Linked DNA regions of Homo sapiens: region 2 is linked to region 1. Evidence: fine-mapped expression QTL. A gene starts in region 1. The other region holds a variant in brackets. All regions are shown on one strand. Distances are from middle to middle.

Evidence for each region.
Region 2: its variant is fine-mapped to the expression of LDAH in whole blood (TOPMed, PIP above 0.99). The same link has a PIP of 0.9 or more in monocytes.

The regions. Positions count from the first base shown.
Region 1 is chr2:20,821,919-20,824,828 of GRCh38, forward strand. LDAH (lipid droplet associated hydrolase) reads right to left here and starts at 1,183. Exons shown (of 7, transcript NM_021925.4): 1 at 1,119-1,183. RefSeq lists enhancers at 59-884, 687-756, 977-1,366.
Region 2 is chr2:20,681,182-20,684,091 of GRCh38, forward strand. LDAH (lipid droplet associated hydrolase) reads right to left here. Exons shown (of 7, transcript NM_021925.4): 7 at 2,850-2,910. Among named protein-coding and RNA genes, the nearest start is that of GDF7, 15 kb to the left of the region's middle. The variant A/G (reference allele first, on the strand shown) is at 1,285.

The DNA.
Region 1 (2,910 bases):
CTTAGCAGGTTTCTAAGTCTTTAACCTTCAGGTGGAAAAATGGGGAAACACACAAGAGACACTCCTACGTATAGTTTCAGAAAGAAGTTTAATTAAAAAACAGCTTTTGAGAATAAACATTCTGGAGATGCTTCTAAATCTTCTGGGTTTCTTTTGGTTGTATCTCTTTCTCCATACAGATTTGTTCTTTCAACTCAAGGACTATCAACTCTTTTTTTTTTTTTGAGACTGAGTCTCACTTTGTCGCCCAGGCTAGAGTGCAGTGGCGCCATCTCGGCTCACTGCAAGCTCCACCTCCCGGGTTCACGCCATTCTCCTGCTTCAGTCTCCCGAGTAGCTGGGACTACAGGCGCCCGCCACCACGCCCGGCTAATTTATTTATTTATGTATTTATTTTTGTATTTTTAGTAAAGATGGGGTTTCACCGTGTTAGCCAGGATGGTCTCGATCTCCTGACCTCCTGATCCGCCCGCCTCGGGGTCCCAAAGTGCTGGGATTACAGGCGTGAGCCACGGCGCCCGGCCAGGACTATCAACTCTTGTGTTTGGTACACAGGACACAAAGCAGGTGTCCGGTAACTACTTGCGAGGGAAGATACGAATTAACCAAGGAATAAAGTGTTCCAATCTGCATTCTGTCTTGCGTGGGGAACAAAACCAAACTAAGACCCAAGGATGAGGGTTTACGGTTAAGGTCTTCAGCGTGAATAAAAGGCGGCGTGAGCACTAAACGCCGGGGGCAAAGAACACTCCCGGCCCAGAGTTTGACCCCTCCTAGCGAGTTCTTCCCGGCCAGCTGCCCAACTTTTTGGCCTCTACTCCTCCGCGGGGGCACCATAAGACTCCCTACAGGTGGGCTACACTTAGGGGTTCAAATGCTGCATTACCGCGCTCGGGTGAGCGACTGCCCGGCCTGCAACTCAAGGGACTCCCAGGCCAAGTGGCTCCGAACTCGCGAGCTGTCGGAACAGTATTATTTTTGCTGCTACGGGCCATCTGGCCCAGGGCAACAGGGGCTCTGCGAGGAACCATAGAGAAGAAGGGGCGCCAGATCCCGCGTGCCTGCCCACCCGTCCTTCCTTTGGGCAGTCACCCTGAGCTCGGCAAGCTGTACCTCACCTGTCCACCTGGAAGGCTGCCCGCTCTCCCTGAGGGTCCTGGGAAGGCGGCACGAGACCGGAAGTGCCCCCCTCAGGTGACGTCACAGTACCGCGCCGGAGCTGATCCGGGAAGCCGATGTCAGCCTGGCGCGCGGCGCACAGCTGGCTGGGAGATTTCTTACTGGCTTGGAGCCGGTGGTCCAGATCAGAGAGACCTCTTGGAGGGTGTCGGGGTTTTCCTTTCTTTTTCATTTGAATTTTATCCGCCTTTTATTTTCTGTCATCCTTGATGTGCTTCTGGCTTCTGGCTTCCCTTTCCTTCTCTCTCATTTGTTCCATGTCTGCCCCTCTTTTCTCCCTCTTCCCATTTCCCTCTTTCTGCGTTACTAGTTGCATATCTTCCCCACATACACAGGAAAGTTGATTCTCATTTGATCATGTTCATAAGCATGATCAATAAAGTATTTTTTTAATTAAGGTGTTGCCAACTTTAAGAAAATTCAGAGAATAATATTAAGTATAGAGTTTATTTGGGCTCAGTGCTTGAGAATGGCCACTCAGGAGCTTAGATTCAAGTTGCCTTGAATATACACTCCAATTAGCAGCAGTCGGAGTAGGTTTTTTTTTTTTTTTTTTTTTTTTTTTGAGACGGAGTCTTGCTCTGTCGCCCAGGCCGGACTGCGGACCGCAGTGGCGCAATCTCGGCTCACTGAAAGCTCCGCTTCCCGGGTTCACGCCATTCTCCTGCCTCAGCCTCCCGAGTAGCTGGGACTACAGGCGCCCGCCACCGCGCCCGGCTAATTTTTTGTATTTTTAGTAGAGACGGGGTTTCACCTTGTTAGCCAGGATGGTCTCGATCTCCTGACCTCATGATCCACCCGCCTCGGCCTCCCAAAGTGCTGGGATTACAGGCGTGAGCCGGTTTTTAAGGAAAGGAGAGGAGGCAGAGCTTAACTTGTTTACCAAGAATTTATATTTAAAAAACTTAAGCTATTGACTGGCTATGCTTTCTTCCTTGTATCACAAATTCCAGGAACATAAAGATAATGGGTGAGGCAGCTAATAAAGAACAAAATGCCTTTAACAATTGCCCTAAGGCATGGGAAGGCGTGGCGGAAGCCAGTATTCACTTCTGTCCGGGTCTAATAAATTTTGCATACCTCACATAGCTCAGACAGCTCTGGGCTATTTTTCTTTTCTTAGTATGTACTTTTTTTAGACATAATACTGTTGTACACAATAATCTACAGTACAGTGTAAATATAAATTTTATATGCACTGGGAAACCAAAAAAATTCTGTGAACTGCCTTATTGTGATGTTTGCTTTATTGTGGTAGTATGGAACTGAACCCCCAATATCTTCAAAGTATGCTTGGATTTAAAAAAGAGGTTTACTTAGCTCATGGTTCTGCACATTGGAAAGCTCAAGGGGCATAGTGTGAGCATCTGCTCAGTTCTGGTTAGAGTTTTTTGTGCAGTGTCACAACATGGTAGAAGGTCAAAGGGGAAGCTGATACATGTGAAAACAGACCAAACAGGAGGTGGAAAACAACCCACTCTCTCAGGGACTCTCTCTTTTCCAATCTCTCAAGAGCTGTTATCAAACCAAACTGGAGTCCAATTGCCTGTGCAGCAAGACCAAACACTGACATCAGGATTATAGTGAAAGAAAGTGAGGCATTTATTGTAGGGTCCCAAGCAAGGAGAACTGGTCAGTTAGTGCTTAAGTCTTGAACTCCCTAATTGTTTATAGGTAAGGGTTTTTAAATGCAGGGGTGTCAGAGGTTATAGGCAAAGTCATAAATCAATA
Region 2 (2,910 bases), 140 kb before region 1:
GAGGTCAGCACAGGCCCCTTTGCCAGAATGTTTGAGGAATGCAACACAAAATGAAAATGCTCGATTATCCCAGAGCACAGTCATGTGTATTGTTGCTGTAATTCCCACTCGGGGTGCTGCGCGGGGTTAGTGCTCAGCAAATAATAAACTACATATTTGGTAGTTGCTAATACCCAAACTCCAGAGGTTTTCTAATTGTAGAAGAATGGAAGTAACAGTTGCAGCCATATCAGACAAGATGAATGGGACACAAGGGATAGTGGCCTTGCTTCCTTGCAGTCCCCCAGTGCCAGACACAAACAGTCTGCAAAGATTCAGACATCCTTGAATCTATCTGACCCAGTTGTGCACAGCTCTGCTGGGGAAACACTTAAGGGATAAAAGAGCAAGTGTCCATGTCTGCACTCCCACTGATGTGTCAGTTTTAAGATGAAGAAGCCCAGAGATGTGATTTCCTGGTAGTCCGACCCAATGTGAGAATTGCACTTTTTCACAGCTTGCCTATTAGGTATGGTAGAAACTTTTTATTAATTTAGATAACAAAATTTATAGACTACCCTGTGTAGCAGGCCATATTTGATATGCCCTGACAGCACAGAGATGACTAAGACAGAAGGTCATCTTCTAGGACTCTCCTGAGAGAAGGGGTGTTGGTGGAGGCAGGGAGGAGCAGACTGCAGAGACACAATCCCGCAGCAATGATAAGTCATTCAGTAGACACAGGCCAGGCCAGGGGTCATGAAGACTGGCAGGGCATGGAAGGGTGGGAAGGACCGCTCTGGGAGGCAGGAGCAGTTGGTATTTTAGGCCACGTCTCATGGGGTGGGGTAGAGGATGGGCGTAATCAAAGCTGGAGCAGTGATTCCTGTACAGAGGAGTCCACAGGAAGCTCCCGTGCGTGGCATAAGACCAGGTGGCTATGGAAGAGTTGCAGAGGTGCCGGCCATGTGGCTGCAGCCACAGCACTGACTCCCAGCATGTGGGCTTGCTTTCTCTCAATCCACTGCCTGATGCATATTTTTGCCGTCTGAAAACTGGTCTCTGTTATAGCTTTCATTCTTTTAAAACTACTCATTTGTTACCAACGATCTACTCGTCACTTCTTCTGTCAATCGGGTCCTCATTTGCCCTTTGCGTGACTCTCTTTCCCGGCTCTCCACTTTTGCTAGGCTTGCCCACTGTGGCCTCCAGGAGGCAGCATGATGCAGTGGAAAAAGGGGATGAAGTGGTGGCTCTGGAGTAGAGGCCTGAATTGGAATCTGGCTTAGTTCATTTTCTGTTGCT[A/G]TAATGGAATATCAGAGACTGGGTAATTTATAAAGAAGAGATTTATTTCTTACAGTTCTGGAGGCTGGAAAGTCCAAGATTGAGGGGCTGGCATCTGGTGAGGACCTTTGTGCTACATCCTCCCTGGCAAAAGGTGGAAGGGCAAGAGAGCATGAGAGAACAAGAGATCAAACTTGCAGCCTAATATTGTGGCTTTTTATCACTGGCATTAATCCATTCAGGAAGGAAGGGCCCTCATGACTCAGACACTTCCTGTTAGGACCCACCTCCCAATAGTTGCATTGGGGATTAAGTCTCTAACACACGAACTTTGGAGGACATGTGCAACTACAGGAGAACCCCAGCTCTGTCATCTATTAACTGTGAGGTCCTTAGCAAGGCACCTCAGTGGTAATCTGTATAATGGGCATAGTCAGAACATCACAGGATTGGGAGGCCTAAGTGAGACACTGTGAAGGTGCTGGGGTGAGCAGCATACTCCTTATCTGGATTAGCTCTCATCTATTCCAAACCACCTATCCAAGTTCTACCTGCCCTTCTAGGACTAGGGGCAACCTCATCCTCTTCTCTCTTCCAAGAGCTTTGTCTTTATAGAACCCTTTATAGAACCATAGAACCACCCAGAGCTTTCTTTGACCCTCGTTCGTGCTCTGAGGATGCTCACCCAGCATCACACTCAGTGACGCCGGTCTTGCTCTAGAGATGCCTTCAGCCTGGTGGGAGAGGCCAGACCCATGTCCCACAGACACTCCTCACCTGGGCCAATGTGATCACTTACCCATGTCTGTATGGGGCACAGGCAGGAATCTCAATCCTCTTAAAAAGTGATTAGAAGAACACTCATATGAGCTTTGCTGTCCTCAGCACTCCTGCAGAAGAGCTTCATTCAAGGTCCCACAGATGTATTTGTTCACAGAGCACACTCAGTCCCAGCCTCCAACCTCTCCTTAAGGCCCACCCCTAAGGGAAGGAGCAGCCCAAATATATCCTTGCCTCTTCTCTTCTGCAAGAGAAGGCCAGGGATGAAGATGTCTCAAGCCATCTAAGAAATGCTTTGCTTCCCGCATCTTTTCTAAATCGACTGTTAGAACATCCTGGGCTGTGTGCAGGGAGGCCTGAATGGGCTGAGGCCAGAAAGCTGAGCCAGGTGAGCAAGTGTTATCCCTGCGTAAGAGCCAAAATGCTGACTGCTAGAATCAAGTTACAAGCCTGGTGAAACAGTGCAGGGACTGAGATACCACAGGGTCCTCTGCTACACTAAAGAGAAGAGAAATGAAAGGAAAAAAGGAAAAACAAGTTTGCTATCCTCCTTTAGGTACCATTTTATAGAGAATCCACCATATGCCAGGCAACATACTAAATGCTATATGCATGACCTCATTTTATCTCCATTAAAAAAAAAATGAGGAGCTGGGGGACTCAGGGAGGTGAAGTGAAGTCTTATGTCACAAACCTAACAAATGACAGATCTGGGATTTGAACCCAGGTCTTCATTTACTGCGTACAAGAGGAAATAGCCTTTTTGGAAAAGAAGCAATGAGACACGGATGCAGGAGATAGCATGGTGGGGTTTTAAAAATAATTATTTTTACAAATTCTAAAACATCTCAAACTTCCAAAAAATCT